Regions from separate parts of the Homo sapiens genome. Here regions 1, 2, 4 and 5 are each reported to be linked to region 3. The links are microRNA targets in miRTarBase. Many come from high-throughput screens and were not tested one by one. Region 3 holds a microRNA gene; each other region holds the end of a gene's coding sequence.
Evidence for each region. The annotated mature microRNA hsa-miR-383-5p reads AGAUCAGAAGGUGAUUGUGGCU and lies in region 3 at 2,027-2,048, shown strand. An mRNA with a match to its seed (bases 2 to 7 or 8) in the 3' UTR can be bound and repressed. Matches are read on the target gene's strand: a 7mer-m8 pairs with bases 2 to 8, a 7mer-A1 pairs with bases 2 to 7 and ends in A, and an 8mer does both.

Region 1: miRTarBase lists ZBTB20 as a target of hsa-miR-383-5p. Seed matches in the 3' UTR shown: 7mer-A1 at 1,003-1,009.
Region 2: miRTarBase lists DDIT4 as a target of hsa-miR-383-5p. Seed matches in the 3' UTR shown: 7mer-m8 at 651-657.
Region 4: the mRNA of PCDH11Y is a reported target of hsa-miR-383-5p. The part of its 3' UTR that is shown has no 7-base or 8-base seed match.
Region 5: miRTarBase lists PPP1R10 as a target of hsa-miR-383-5p. Seed matches in the 3' UTR shown: 8mer at 355-362.

The regions. Positions count from the first base shown.
Region 1 is chr3:114,336,001-114,339,205 of GRCh38, forward strand. ZBTB20 (zinc finger and BTB domain containing 20) reads right to left here. Exons shown (of 12, transcript NM_001348800.3): 12 at 1-3,205. The coding sequence ends at 3,005. Among named protein-coding and RNA genes, the nearest start is that of ZBTB20-AS1, 14 kb to the right of the region's middle.
Region 2 is chr10:72,275,030-72,278,202 of GRCh38, forward strand. DDIT4 (DNA damage inducible transcript 4) reads left to right here. Exons shown (of 3, transcript NM_019058.4): 3 at 1-1,007. The coding sequence ends at 159. Among named protein-coding and RNA genes, the nearest start is that of DDIT4, 2.7 kb to the left of the region's middle. RefSeq lists an enhancer at 538-1,061.
Region 3 is chr8:14,852,531-14,855,530 of GRCh38, reverse strand. It overlaps MIR383 (microRNA 383), which reads left to right and starts at 2,021; the gene lies at 2,021-2,093. All of the region lies in intron 1 of SGCZ (sarcoglycan zeta), which reads left to right.
Region 4 is chrY:5,737,478-5,740,477 of GRCh38, forward strand. PCDH11Y (protocadherin 11 Y-linked) reads left to right here. Exons shown (of 6, transcript NM_001395587.1): 6 at 1-3,000. The coding sequence ends at 465. Among named protein-coding and RNA genes, the nearest start is that of TTTY23B, 500 kb to the right of the region's middle.
Region 5 is chr6:30,598,579-30,601,748 of GRCh38, reverse strand. It overlaps PPP1R10 (protein phosphatase 1 regulatory subunit 10), which reads left to right. Exons shown (of 20, transcript NM_002714.4): 20 at 91-1,336. The coding sequence ends at 200. Among named protein-coding and RNA genes, the nearest start is that of MIR877, 16 kb to the right of the region's middle.

The sequences.
Region 1 (3,205 bases), not on the chromosome of region 3:
AAAGCTACACGTGGCCCATAATGGCACCTAAGATCAACTTTTCAGGCGGTATTAGTGAAAATTCTTCCTACTTTGCTAAATTTGAACAAAGACACTTTCAAATCTACTGTGAAACAGTTTAAAATATTTTAAAGTGGCTTTTGGCCTTCTTTCATTTGTAACATGTATTGAGTGATTTCATGTCATTGTCTCCTAGCTTTAAGAGTTTTTTTCTTAAGGTCAATCTTCTCTTTTCATTTTATGGGTGGAATCACTTGTTTTCCAAAATATCAAAACAATTCCATGACATAGTTAATTAATGCTCCCTCTATTGGTGGTAAGTGGAAATATTAGTCTTACAACACTGCTATTTTAAAAAGCAAAATTAGCAATAGAAAAATGAACTTACTTTATCTCGGAAGCTGTTCCTCACTAACTGTTAAAACAGATCAGTTTTGGACATACAGTTCTTGGCAGGACTCCTCTTAGAAATCACAATAGGTTACACTTAATAGTCAGTTAACCACCCAAGTTTACATTAAAACTTCTAGCAAAATATCCACTGAATTAAGCACTGTGGGACCAAATCAAACTCACAAACACTTCAGTTACACTAACCTTACAAAGCATCACAAAGAACTTATGAAAAAGATCCAAGTTAACCAAATGTCTAAAATATATGAATAAAACCAATTTAGTCATTACAGAGTTGTTTGTGTTGGAAGATTTTCCCTCGTTTGCTGCACAGTTTTTGTAAATAAAATGCTGACAGGAAAATTAGAAGGAAAATTAAATTAAAATGTAATGTAATTTTGAAACTAAAATACGCTCTCCTTTCTTCTTTTTAAAACTGTAGTTTGGTGTTTTGCTTTGTTTAAAGATTTGCTTTCCCCTAAGTATGTTAAAATATGCCCAGCAATGAAATCACTTTGGGAGTTTCAGCTAGGTTTAAGAATTCCTATATTTGAGCTGGAATCCCTTCAGGACACTGTCTATAATGAAAATGTCTCTATTATAACACCTTGATCAGGACCGAGGAGAGAAATCCCTACTAGGAAGAGAGAGTGGCATCTGGTATGATGCAATAGATTGGTGGTCTTTTGAATGGTGGCTGTTGGCATCTGGGAATTTTTTTGTTAATTTCCCTAAAACCTTTCGAAGAAGCAAGGGTTAATTCGTCATCTAAAGAATGATCATCTTATTCAGCCCTCTTAACCATGGTGGAAACAGTCAGAAGGTGATATTTGGAAGGAAAAAAGTAATTTTGGCATCAATGCATCTTGATCTATAACAGGCTTCTCATAATGATGCTCTTTGTAGTTGGGAAGGGTGAGGAGCTATGGCAGAGTTTTGTGAACTCCTCTTCCTGGCTGATCACAAAAGAAAAGACCCCATTTATCAAGACTTCTAGACTATTAGTGTTTCACTAAGAAAAAAAGTAAAGTCAATAGAAATTCTAGAATTGTAAGATCTCAATGAAATTTTGGAGAAGCAAGCAATCTCTTTCTGAAAGATAAAGTCTCTTCCATGAAAAAGAACAGAATTCTAGATGAATCAGTTGAAAAAATTATTCAGTGGGGCAACTTAAGCTTGCTAAAGTCAAAGAACTACATATCAAAATACAAAGCAGCAATTCAAATTACAGCAGGGATGGGCTGGCCACAGAGGCCCTCATCAACCCAGGCAATACTTAAAATAATAAAAATTAAGAAAAATTAAAAAAAATATGAAGAAAATATCCTTCCTCTCTTTCAAATATAACTTTAGTTGCCTTTTATTCTTTCTATCTGGAAGCAGTATCGCTAACCTTAACAGTCTTGACTTACCAAAAAATATATATATGTGTGTGAAATAAAATAAAAGAGAAGGAATTGGTGGCAGTGTATGCAAAACCAAAATGAAAAAAATTACTTTTAACAATTTCACTTTTTTTGTTTTTTTTTTTACACAAATACTGTTGTAAATATATTAAAAAAATCAGCATTCTATCTGGTAAACGTCACTTTTGCCCCTCTATAAAATTTTGAATTAAAAAAGCCTCAAGAACTTTTTATTGTTCCCCCCACCCTCCATTTCTTTTTCTTTTTCTCTTCCACAAGAATATATCCTGACACTTTTTTTTTTTTTGCAAAGATTGTTGGAAATAATCCTTCTCTTGTACCTAGAAACATAGGTGCAAATTTCTGATATCTTTGTTTTATCTGCATTCCTGCCTTTCATGAAAGTCCCTCTTGATTGTGCTGAGGCTGTGGCTCAGCGAAGACACTGAATAAATACGATAGCCACTGTTGCTTGTTGCTTGTCCAAGTCTTCCTGGCTTCTGCTGCAAGAGGGGGATATGGAGAAGGTGGGCCAGGGTGTGTGGACCCGGGCAGAATCTGGGGAAGAAGCCTGCCATTCGTCTTTCTTTCCCACACCACCGAACCCACTGCCCTTCCCACCCCCACAGCCCTTTTATGAAATCAGACAACGTGGTAGGTGGAAAACAGCAGGGCCTTTCCTCTGGGTTTTCAACCAGAAGTGATATTCCACAGTTTTAACTGGTTACTGTGAAGTCCAAGCGGCCAGAATTGTGAAAATGTCCACTGAAACACTGCAAGCGGTGTACTTAAAGACAGTAGGCCTTTTAGATTTTGTTATATATTTTTTGTAGTGCTCTTCACAAGTGGAAATTTTTTTTTTTTTTTTACTTTTTTTTAAAAGATTTTTTTGTAAAGAAGGGTTGTATTTAGAGGCCAGTAGCTAGAGATCCAACCAGTGGACCTCTTGAAGCACTACCAGGCCTTAAGGCCACCATCCGAGGGAGACTGGGAAAACTATTATTCACCCAAGCCTCCGGAAATGTAATGTACCAGCAGGCAAAAAACAGTTCTTCATGTAGTACAAAATGAAACGAAACAAAAACAAAAACAGAAAGTAAAAATGAAACCAAAACATTTCTTAAATTCTAGTGCCATAGCTTTTTTGTTTGTTTGTTTTTTGTTGTTGTTTTGTTTTGTTCATAAGAAAGAGAGAAAGATACTACTTATCCGTCAGACACATGCATCCTCATGTGGTCGTTGAACTGCTCGATTTGGTCAAACTTTGCTGGGCAGACGGAGCAGACGTAAGTGGTCCCCTCCGTGCAGGCCACCACGCCTGGGGGGCCAGCGCGGGCACCTGGGGGTGTGCCTGCAGGGGGGGTCCCATTGCTGGCACTGTGCAGGGCCACGTGTCGCTCCAGGAG
Region 2 (3,173 bases), not on the chromosome of region 3:
CTGGACTCACGACTCTGGCCCAAGATCCAGGGGCTGTTTAGCTCCGCCAACTCTCCCTTCCTCCCTGGCTTCAGCCAGTCCCTGACGCTGAGCACTGGCTTCCGAGTCATCAAGAAGAAGCTGTACAGCTCGGAACAGCTGCTCATTGAGGAGTGTTGAACTTCAACCTGAGGGGGCCGACAGTGCCCTCCAAGACAGAGACGACTGAACTTTTGGGGTGGAGACTAGAGGCAGGAGCTGAGGGACTGATTCCTGTGGTTGGAAAACTGAGGCAGCCACCTAAGGTGGAGGTGGGGGAATAGTGTTTCCCAGGAAGCTCATTGAGTTGTGTGCGGGTGGCTGTGCATTGGGGACACATACCCCTCAGTACTGTAGCATGAAACAAAGGCTTAGGGGCCAACAAGGCTTCCAGCTGGATGTGTGTGTAGCATGTACCTTATTATTTTTGTTACTGACAGTTAACAGTGGTGTGACATCCAGAGAGCAGCTGGGCTGCTCCCGCCCCAGCCCGGCCCAGGGTGAAGGAAGAGGCACGTGCTCCTCAGAGCAGCCGGAGGGAGGGGGGAGGTCGGAGGTCGTGGAGGTGGTTTGTGTATCTTACTGGTCTGAAGGGACCAAGTGTGTTTGTTGTTTGTTTTGTATCTTGTTTTTCTGATCGGAGCATCACTACTGACCTGTTGTAGGCAGCTATCTTACAGACGCATGAATGTAAGAGTAGGAAGGGGTGGGTGTCAGGGATCACTTGGGATCTTTGACACTTGAAAAATTACACCTGGCAGCTGCGTTTAAGCCTTCCCCCATCGTGTACTGCAGAGTTGAGCTGGCAGGGGAGGGGCTGAGAGGGTGGGGGCTGGAACCCCTCCCCGGGAGGAGTGCCATCTGGGTCTTCCATCTAGAACTGTTTACATGAAGATAAGATACTCACTGTTCATGAATACACTTGATGTTCAAGTATTAAGACCTATGCAATATTTTTTACTTTTCTAATAAACATGTTTGTTAAAACAGTTGGTTGAGTCTCTCATCAGTACCATGAAGTGAAAAGGAGGGAGATGGGTGCTAGTGAAAGGCAGGTCTCATCAGGCCCTGGGGTCCACCTGTGTGTTCCTCCATCCCTTTCCGGGACTGCCTGCCAGCCTGGTGACAGAGGTATGTGTACCGTGTGCCATCTGTGCCAAGAACCCTTGGCCCTGTGCTGGCTGAAGCTACTAGGAGAACACACTGGAAACCCCTGAAGGTAGGGGGTGAGTCAGACCTCCCACCGAGCCAGAGTCTCCAGAGGGAGAGCTCACCTGGCTGCCCCGGTTAGAAGGCCCAGACAGGAGGGCCCACTGAGCCCAAGGTCTTTAATAAACAGTGAAAGAACTAGAAAATACCTTTTTTCTTTCTGGGAGAAAAAAATCAGTTGTTCTACCATCATGAAAATTACAAATCTTATCTCTGGATTTAAAAAGACTAAGAGGGGGAGTTTGAAAAATGCTACTTAGCTCATGCCTCTCACTGGACAAGGAACCAAGAGGGGCATGAGCTGCCACTGGAAGGAAGTCTGGACCAGGCAGGTGCAGAACTCCTTGCACACACACAGGTGAGGGAAGGAGTGCTAAGGGCTTAGAGAGCAAGGAAATAGCAGGCCTACCTTAACGATACCTTGGGTCACCCAGACGTCCTCTGTGACCTGTTGTCCCAGCCACTTGGGATGCTGAAGCCAGAGGATTGCTTGAGTCCAGGAGTTCAAGGCTGCAGCCTGGGTGACAGCAAGACCCTGTCTCTAAAAACAAAAGATGCATTGTGCATTCTGGGCCCTAAGTTCCTTGTCAGAAAAATTGGCAAATTGGAGTTGGGCCAGATGAAGCCCAGGGCCTTTCCCCCTTCTTCCCTGGAATTACATCCACCCACACCAACTGGCATTTGGAGAGTTTTTATCTCCCTTGTTTCTCTTCCTGGTCCCAGACAGGCCTTGTTTGCTCAAGACTAAAACAGTGGCTCTTGCACTTGAGCGTGTGTAATCAGATCACATGGGCCCTCCTGGAGATTCTCAGTGCATCCGGGCCAGGGCCCCAGGAATCTGCATTTACATCAGGGATTCCAATAGAGGGTCCTAAACTTTACGATGACTTGGAAGACCCATCTCTCTTTGGTAGAACTGAGTGATTTGTTCCCCAAAATGGATAAACTTGGATTAGAAGTGCATTTGGAAATGGATAGTGAGAACAGTGAAGAAGGTGCCCAGACCAGTGTGAGGAAAGCCCTCACACCCATTTTCTTAGCACATCCTCCTAATAGCCACCCTGTGAGGGGTGGGTGGCGGCAGGGGTTTTTAATGTTTTACAGATTAGTAAATGGAGGCCCAAGCCCTGGAATGGTCATCTTCTTGGATAAGGGCTGACTTTGTCCACTCCCAGCCTATTGAGATTCAGGGCTGGGAGTAAAGCAAGCTTGACACCTGGGCTGAGTCTGAAGGGCACTTTCCCGGGAACTGAGATCTGTGCCAATGCTCACGACCCTGCCTCCCCAGTCTCAAAAGAGAAGCAAGGAAACAATTGTCTTCAGAGTACAGAGTCTTGTTGGTATTTGGGGGCCTGAGCTGGATGGATTGGTCAGCATTAGCCCTTCTCCAAGCCAAGGAGGCAGCTGAGCCCAGCACCGTACCTTTTCTTAGATAGTCAGACTGAGGCCAAATCAAAGCTTGGGTTCCCAAGCTAGCTCAGCTGAGATGCCCTCTCCCAGAGCCAAACTGGCTTCCCTCATTCTCACAGGGCCTGAAAATCCTCCTGCAGCAGGACAGAAGGGTCCGCAAGTGGGAGCCCTGAGCTTGAGTCTCACAGTAAAGGGAAGAGGGTTGCTGAGGCCCAAGACAGTTCTGGGTCCTGAGGTCTGCTAAGACATGGCAGGGAGCTTTGCCCCAGGTACCGGACTTGCTAAGAAAAAATGGGGCAGGCTTCTTTGTTGCTAAGCAGGAAAGCTAAGAAAGCTTATAAAGACCTACACATAAAATCAACTTTGGTAAATGCTTTCAGAAATTGTCCTATTTAGTGAGACCCTATCTGATAAAGAAAGGAAGGAAAGAAAAAAAAGAAAGGAAAGGAAAGGGGAAAGGAAAAAGGAAAGGAAAGGAAAAAGATTGCCCTATTTGGCCTGGAAAATATGTACTGATTACCTCCCTTCCTACAGGA
Region 3 (3,000 bases):
GTCAAGGCAGATTTTAAGCTGAACCCCATGACTATAATCTATCCTGCAAGTATGGACACTGTTGAGGGTAAAATGGGGCAATGTTTTGACATGGGAATAGCAAGCATAAATCAGAATGGGCTAGGTATATAGTGAGCACGAAGTACAGAGACTTGATACCCAGATCAAGAATGGAGATGCCGGCTGGGGACAGTGGCTCACGCCTGAAATCCCAGCACTTTGTGAGGCCAAAGCAGGCGGATCACTTGAGGTCAGGAGTTCAAAACCAGCCTGGCCAACATGGTGAAATTCCGTCTCAACTAAAAATACGAAAGTTAGGTGGACATGTTGGCATCCCTTATTCCCAGCTACTCAGGAGACTAAGGCATGAGAATCGCTTGAGCCCAGGAGGCAGAGGTTGCAGTGAGCCAAGATTGTGCCACTGTACTCCAGTTGGGTGACAGAGCAAGACTCCGTCTCTAAATAAATAAATAAATAAATAAAATAATGGAGATGCCTAGGAAGTTGCATCAAAGTTAGATCTTGAGGGAGGTGGGAGAGCATACCAGATAAAGTCGGGAGCGGGATTTCCCAAGAGAGGCCATAGCATGGACCTCTGCATGATTGTTCAGGCCCCTGTGGACATGCTGACATATCTCTGTGAATAGTGGCAGTGCAGCCTTTGATGTCTAGGGTAGCAGAGATTAAAGAGGGCCACTCTCTGCCGGGTTTATATGCCCTGGGAGACTGATCCCAATTGACCTACTCTCTCCTTTCCTCTCTATGAAAATAAAATGATAATAGCAAACTAATTCCTGCTGGTATTCCTGAAATAATCCAACAAAAGTGAAAAAAGAAATCAGAAGGACCAGTAAATCCTTCTTCTCTCTACTGTTTAACACCAAACTATATTACTGTATGTATTCAAAATATCTTATATTTGCAATAATCATATCTACGATGACTATTGAAAAATAATGAAAACCACTGGCTTCCTATTATGAAAACAATATTACACAATGTGAAATTTATTAATTTTATTAATCTAAGAAGTGCCTTAATATTTAGTTGATAACTTATTGACAGTATTTATTGTAAAAATAAATGTGTATATTTTTATCTTTTCTTTCTGCTTTAGATATGTTGTGGAACAATGTTGAGTCTAAATAAACTACAAATTATATATTTTTGATATGTCTATGTATTATCTTATTCAATGAATACAAATTAACTTTTTGTTTTGTGAATTGCGAATGAAATAGTAAAGTGAGTCATTTTGCATATAATGTTGTTAACACCAACTCTGTGTCAAAAGCCCAACATTTACAAGTCAAAAGTTACTGCATTTAAGATGATTACTAAATAGTGAAGATGAGGTAACACAAAAATCAAACTAATAACAATAATGTATTTCAATTTACATTTTGTGACTCTGTGCAAGGAGATATTGTAGCTTTAGACAGAGTATATAAAATTAGAATATATATACAAAAGGATATATATATATATATATATATATATATATATATAATATAATCACATAGAAACTGATGTCGTTACAAAATGAATGACTTAGGAGTAGGCAAATTTCGACCTTTGATATAGGCCTTGAAAGATCCTTGAAAGGTGTGTATTTTGTATTGGCAAGGAGGAAGGAAGGCTTAGGATAAGCTGTAGTCATGTGAAAGCATTGGATATTGGGACTAAATTGGTCTTCTGGTTCATCTGAAGAAAGAACAGAGAAAGGAAAATTCCAACAGTAGTTAGAAAAGCCTTGTTTATTTTTCTCCCTTCCTCTCTCCTTTCCCAAGCGTTTCACTAGGAAAGAAAATAGCTCTTCTATGGTACCCATGTAATACTAATTTCTCAGCGTTGTCATTCTAGGAACTGCCAATGATTGATGACAATCTATTTAGATTCAGTTCTTTAAAGGACAAAGCAAACCACTTCAGTGACTGAATTTTTTTTTAACCTGCAATGTGTATTGTTTGATTATGTTTGCATAATTTATCAAGAGACTTCAGAATCTCCCCGTCACCTGCTCCTCAGATCAGAAGGTGATTGTGGCTTTGGGTGGATATTAATCAGCCACAGCACTGCCTGGTCAGAAAGAGCAAGTGTCCTAGCCTTTACCTCATGAGACCTTGGGTATCCATCCAGCGTAGGTCCCAAGGGAACTGCATTTGGTGGACTGGAGTGGCCAGCATGCTTCAGGTGAGATGAAAAGTGCCATGTTTAACCTGTGTTTGGAAGCTTGTCTTTCTCATAAAATACCTAGTTGTTTCCTCACATGAGCATTTTGATCATTACCTCCTCTTCCCCACTCTTTAACATTTTTATACCATAAAGAGAAAATAACTTGGGATTCCATGCAGACATTTGAAATTCATGGGCAAAATCTTCAAACTGCAAATAGTACAAGTTTTATATGCATGCTTTAATTTGACTTTCTTCAAATATGAATGCTGCTATAATGCACACATGCAAAGGCCGCTATTGGAATATACTTTCTATGTATCCTCAGAAGCAGAGCTGGCCTCTGGCTGGTAAGTGTGGCTGCCTCATCAGCAGTATATATCTGATCATCTCAACAGTGTTTTCCATTCCTAGTAAAGGAAAAGCCCCATAGAAATAGTAACATATGTGTTTAGGAGCTAACGCTTCAGGAGAGTTTAGACGAGGAGATTCTGGGAACAATACCACAGGAATCCAGGAAAGACTTTGATGCAGAGAAAGGCTATTACTCCATGAAACACTACAGATGGGAGGTGAGCCAAAGAAAATTTTTTGTACTTTGCAATGTTTCCTTAATATGGTCCTGCTCCAACATAATGTAATTATACAAGCTGTGGTTGCCAAAAACTAAATATGAACAAAAATGGAAAAGACAAGATGTTTGTAGGGGAGACTATAGGCATCTGGCGTGCAGGGAAAAAAGTCAATAAATTGTTCAACTGAGGTGAAAATTAATTCTAGAATATTTTCAGGCAATTGTTGGTAGGGTGTTTGTTACTTTGGGCT
Region 4 (3,000 bases), not on the chromosome of region 3:
GTTCTCTGCCACAGCCCTCCAGTGACACAGACCATCGCATTGTGCCACAGCCCACCACCGATACAGGTGTCTGCTCTCCACCACAGTCCTCCTCTAGTGCAGGGTACTGCACTTCACCACAGCCCACCATCAGCACAGGCCTCAGCCCTCTGCTACAGCCCTCCTTTAGCACAGGCTGCTGCAATCAGCCACAGCTCTTCTCTGCCACAGGTTATTGCCCTCCATCGTAGTCAGGCCCAATCATCAGTCAGTTTGCAGCAAGGTTGGGTGCAAGGTGCTAATGGACTATGCTCTGTTGATCAGGGAGTGCAAGGTAGTGCAACATCTCAGTTTTACACCATGTCTGAAAGACTTCATCCCAGTGATGATTCAATTAAAGTCATTCCTTTGACAACCTTCGCTCCACGCCAACAGGCCAGACCGTCCAGAGGTGATTCCCCCATTATGGAAACACATCCCTTGTAAAGCTAAAATAGTTACTTCAAATTTTCAGAAAAGATGTATATAGTCAAAATTTAAGATACAATTCCAATGAGTATTCTGATTATCAGATTTGTAAATAACTATGTAAATAGAAACAGATACCAGAATAAATCTACAGCTAGACCCTTAGTCAATAGTTAACCAAAAAATTGCAATTTGTTTAATTCAGAATGTGTATTTAAAAAGAAAAGGAATTTAACAATTTGCATCCCCTTGTACAGTAAGGCTTATCATGACAGAGCGTACTATTTCTGATGTACAGTATTTTTTGTTGTTTTTATCATCATGTGCAATATTACTGATTTGTTTCCATGCTGATTGTGTGGAACCAGTATGTAGCAAATGGAAAGCCTAGAAATATCTTATTTTCTAAGTTTACCTTTAGTTTACCTAAACTTTTGTTCAGATAATGTTAAAAGGTATACGTACTCTAGCCTTTTTTGGGGCTTTCTTTTTGATTTTTGTTTGTGGTTTTCAGTTTTTTTGTTGTTGTTAGTGAGTCTCCCTTCAAAATACACAGTAGGTAGTGTAAATACTGCTTGTTTGTGTCTCTCTGCTGTCATGTTTTCTACCTTATTCCAATACTATATTGTTGATAAAATTTGTATATACATTTTCAATAAAGAATATGTATAAACTGTACAGATCTAGATCTACAACCTATTTCTCTACTCTTTAGTAGAGTTCGAGACACAGAAGTGCAATAACTGCCCTAATTAAGCAACTATTTGTTAAAAAGGGCCCCTTTTTACTTTAATAGTTTAGTGTAAAGTACATCAGAAATAAAACTGTATCTGACATTTTAAGCCTGTAGTCCATTATTACTTGGGTCTTTACTTCTGGGAATTTGTATGTAACAGCCTAGAAAATTAAAAGGAGGTGGATGCATCCAAAGCACGAGTCACTTAAAATATCGACGGTAAACTACTATTTTGTAGAGAAACTCAGGAAGATTTAAATGTTGATTTGACAGCTCAATAGGCTGTTACCAAAGGGTGTTCAGTAAAAATAACAAATACATGTAACTGTAGATAAAACCACATACTAAATCTATAAGACTAAGGGATTTTTGTTATTCTAGCTCAACTTACTGAAGAAAACCACTAATAACAACAAGAATATCAGGAAGGAACTTTTCAAGAAATGTAATTATAAATCTACATCAAACAGAATTTTAAGGAAAAATGCAGAGGGAGAAATAAGGCACATGACTGCTTCTTGCAGTCAAGAAGAAATACCAATAACACACACAGAACAAAAACCATCAAAATCTCATATATGAAATAAAATATATTCTTCTAAGCAAAGAAACAGTACTATTCATAGAAAACATTAGTTTTCTCCTGTTGTCTGTTATTTCCTTCTTTTATCCTCTTAACTGGCCATTATCTTGTATGTGCACATTTTATAAATGTACAGAAACATCACCAACTTGATTTTCTTCCATAGCAAAACTGAGAAAATACCTTGTTTCAGTATAACACTAAACCAAGAGACAATTGATGTTTAATGGGGGCGGTTGGGGTTGGGGGGGAGTCAATATCTCCTATTGATTAACTTAGACATAGATTTTGTAATGTATAACTTGATATTTAATTTATGATTAAACTGTAATTTTGTAACATAAACTGTGGTAATTGCATAATTTCATTGGTGAGGATTTCCTTTGAATATTGAGAAAGTTTCTTTTCATGTGCCCAGCAGGTTAAGTAGCGTTTTCAGAATATACATTATTCCCATCCATTGTAAAGTTCCTTAAGTCATATTTGACTGGGCGTGCAGAATAACTTCTTAACTATTAACTATCAGAGTTTGATTAATAAAATTAATTAATTTTTTTTCTCCTTCGTGTTGTTAATGTTCCAAGGGATTTGGAGCATACTGGTTTTCCAGGTGCATGTGAATCCCGAAGGACTGATGATATTTGAATGTTTATTAAATTATTATCACACAAATGTGTTGATATTGTGGCTATTGTTGATGTTGAAAATTGTAAACTTGGGGAAGATTAAGAAAAGAACCAATAGTGACAAAAATCAGTGCTTCCAGTAGATTTTAGAACATTCTTTGCCTCAAAAAACCTGCAAAGATGATGTGAGATTTTTTCTTGTGTTTTAATTATTTTCACATTTTCTCTCTGCAAACCTTTAGTTTTCTGATGATCTACACACACACATACACACACACACACACACACGTGCACACACACACATTTAAAGGATATAAAAAGAAGAGGTTGAAAGATTATTAAATAACTTATCAGGCATCTCAATGGTTACTATCTATGTTAGTGAAAATCAAATAGGACTCAAAGTTGGATATTTGGGATTTTTCTTCTGACAGTATAATTTATTGAGTTACTAGGGAGGTTCTTAAATCCTCATATCTGGAAACTTGTGAAGTTTTGACACCTTTCCTATAGATATAGGAATGAACCAATACGCTTTTATTACCCTTTCTAACTCTGATTTTATAATCAGACTTAGATTGTGTTTAGAATATTAAATGACTGGGCAC
Region 5 (3,170 bases), not on the chromosome of region 3:
CAGTTCTCAGGATGTCATGGACAAGGGGTGGTGAGGGTGGCATTGCCCTCAGCTATTTCCTGTCTAACTGTTTTGCCATCGTTCCCACAGACATGTCAAACCGCCCTGTCTGCCGACATTTCATGATGAAGGGCAACTGCCGCTATGAGAACAACTGTGCCTTCTACCACCCGGGTGTCAATGGGCCCCCCCTGCCCTAGGGACCATTTGCCTGCCCTGTTCACACAACCCCTGTGGACTGCAGCCTCGCTCTTTCCACCCTGTTATGGCTTCTGTGAGGCCCATTTTCCCTTTTCCCCAGCTGATGAGGAGCCGGCCCCCTCAGTTCCCACTTGCTTGGGTTCCTGGGGGTTTTCTGATCACTGGTGCGCATTGATGTACATATTTTCCTCCAGTCTGGGGAGGAGAGAGACTGGAAACGTTCCTGGACTGCTGAAGAGGAGACCCAGTTGGCTTCACTTTTTGAGAAGATTCGCCCTGTACCCCAAACCCCTTTCCAGTATTACCCTTAATGCTTGAGAACCTAAAGCTGGTTATCCTGGCGAACACCCCTACCCTTCTATTGCGGGTCCCCACATGCACACAGAACTCTGACACAGGATCAGCTGCACTTAAGAAATCATCCCAGCTAAGTTCATTATTCCTCATGGGGTGGGGAGATGCTGAAAGGGGTATTGTATATCCCACTGCACTGAGAGGGCTCAATCAGCTGGATTTGAGTTCTGGAACACACATCATCCCCACCCCTCCCCCAGCGTGGGCTCACCATTCTTAGTCCTTTCTCAAGTGGGACCTTCAACTTTCTGTGAACACCCAGTCTGCGTCCTGGGTCTGCTAGGTTCGATGATGGCGAACTCGTATCTGCATCCGGTGCAAGTTTTAGCTGGCAGAGGTGAGACCGGTGGTGCTGGTCTGCCTTTGCCAACTATAGCCAGTCTGGAGACTTGATAAAATACTTCAGTGAGACCAGCTTCTCATCAACTTGGGCCCGGCGTGCTGGGCCTGAAAGTCACACTACATGCACTGCCTTTGGGAGTCAGCTCACTCCCTGCTCCCACCTGGAACCTTGCCAGCGTGAAGGAGGCTTCCAGGTACTTCACCCTGTCAACCACCTCTGAATCCCCACCAGGCGCCTTCCTGGGTGGATTCAACAAGATGATTTTGCCCTTTCCCAGTTCTCTCCTTCACTTTGGCATCAGTTGTTTTCTATGAAAACAGTGGATTGGTTGGGTTTTGTGCAGGGTCTTGGGTTAGAGCCAAAATGGATTTGAGGATGAGTATTTTTTTTTTTGGTTTTGTATATTTTGTACATTAATAATAAACAGTGGAAAGAGAAGCAGCTTATTTAACCCCTAGTGTGTTTGGACTTTTTTGAGACGGAGTCTCGCTCCGTTGCCTGGGCTAGAATGCAGTGGTGCAGTCTTGGCTTACTGCAATCTCTGCCTCCTGGGTTCAAGGGATTCTTCTGCCTCAGTCTTCTGAGTAGCTGGGATTCCAGGCACCTGCCACCATGCCTGGCTAATTTTTTTGTATTTTTAGTAGAGACTTGGTTTCACCATGTTGGCCAGGCTGGTCTGGAACTCCTGACCTCGTGATCTGCCCGCCACGGCCTCCCAAAGCGCTGGGATTACAGGCGTGAGCCACCGCGCCCGGCCTGGACTGTTTTTCATTTTTTTTTTTTTAAAAGCCATTACCACCTGTGTTAGATACATTAGTACAAATCTGTGGAATCTGATTTTTACTCCTCTGGAGCTAATGCTTGATCTAACAGTTGCTATTAAGTACTGGTGAAAAAATGCTTCAAAAAGTACATAAAATACTCTAGGATACAGAGTAGATCTCGGCCACAGGGCTCTTTCCTGGTTTTCATCTTTCTGAGTCTTCTTTAACACGCCTCGTGTGTGTTCCTAGAACAGTCCTATCCTGGCTATCGTGCCCTCTAGGATGTGTTCTTGGTCATCTTATCCACATTCTACAGATAAGGGAGGAAATCCTGAGGATGCTGGAGTCAGATAAAGGCCATTGTCCCAGCTCTACCTCTCTACAGCCTGGGTGACCTTAGCCAGGTTAGTGTTGGGTATCAGTGGCTCATGTCTGTAATCCCAGCACTTTTGGGAGGCCGAGGTGGGAAGACTACTTGAGCCCAGGAGTTTGAGACCAGCCTGAGCAACATAGGGAGACCAGGTCTGTACAAAAAATACAAAAAATATTAGGCATGGTGGCACATGCCTTTAGTTCCAGCTACCTGGGAGGCTGAGGCGAGAGGATCACTTGAGCCTGGGAGTTCAAACTCACAGCTATGATTGTACCACTGCAATCCAGCCGGAGCAACAGAGCAAGACCCTGTCTCAAAAAAAAAAAAAAAAAAAAAAAGCCAGGCATATTGGGTCATGCCTGTAATCCCATCACTTTGGGAAGGCGAGGTGGGTGGATCACCTGAGGTCAGGAGTTGGAGACCAGCCTGGCCAACATGACAAAACCCCGTCTCTACTAAAAATACAAACATTAGCTGGGTGCCTATAACCCAGCTACTCCGGAGGCTGAGGCGGGAGAATCCCTTAAACCCAGGAGGTGCAGGTTGCAGTGGGCCGAGATCATGCCACTGCACTCCAGCCTGAGTGACAGGGCAAAATTCCGTCACAAAAAAACAAAGGGTAAGTATAGACTGCTCTTCCCAAAGTGGCTCTGGCCAGGCATGGTGGCTCAAGCCAGTAATCCGAGCACTTTGGGACGCCAACATGGGAGGATCACTTGAACCCAGGAGTTCAAAACTACCCTAAGCAACATAGGGAAGCTCCATTTCCCCATTTCCGCGCCTGGCCTCCACTCTTCTTAAACCAGAAATTAAAGCTGGGCATGTTGGCTCACGCCTGTAATCCCAGCACTTTGGGAGGCCCACATGGGACGATCACTTGAACCCAGGAGTTCAAAACTACCCTAAGCAACATAGGGAAACTCCATTTCCCCATTTCCGCGCCTGGCCTCCACTCTTAAACCAGAAATTAAAGCTGGGCGTGGTGGCTCACGCCTGTAATCCCAGCACCTTGGGAGGCCGAAGCAGTTGGATCACCTGAGGTCAGAAGTTCGAGACCAGCCTGGCCAACATGAAGAAACCCCATCTCTACTAAAAATACAAAAATTAGCTGGGTGTGGTTACTGGCGCCTGTTAT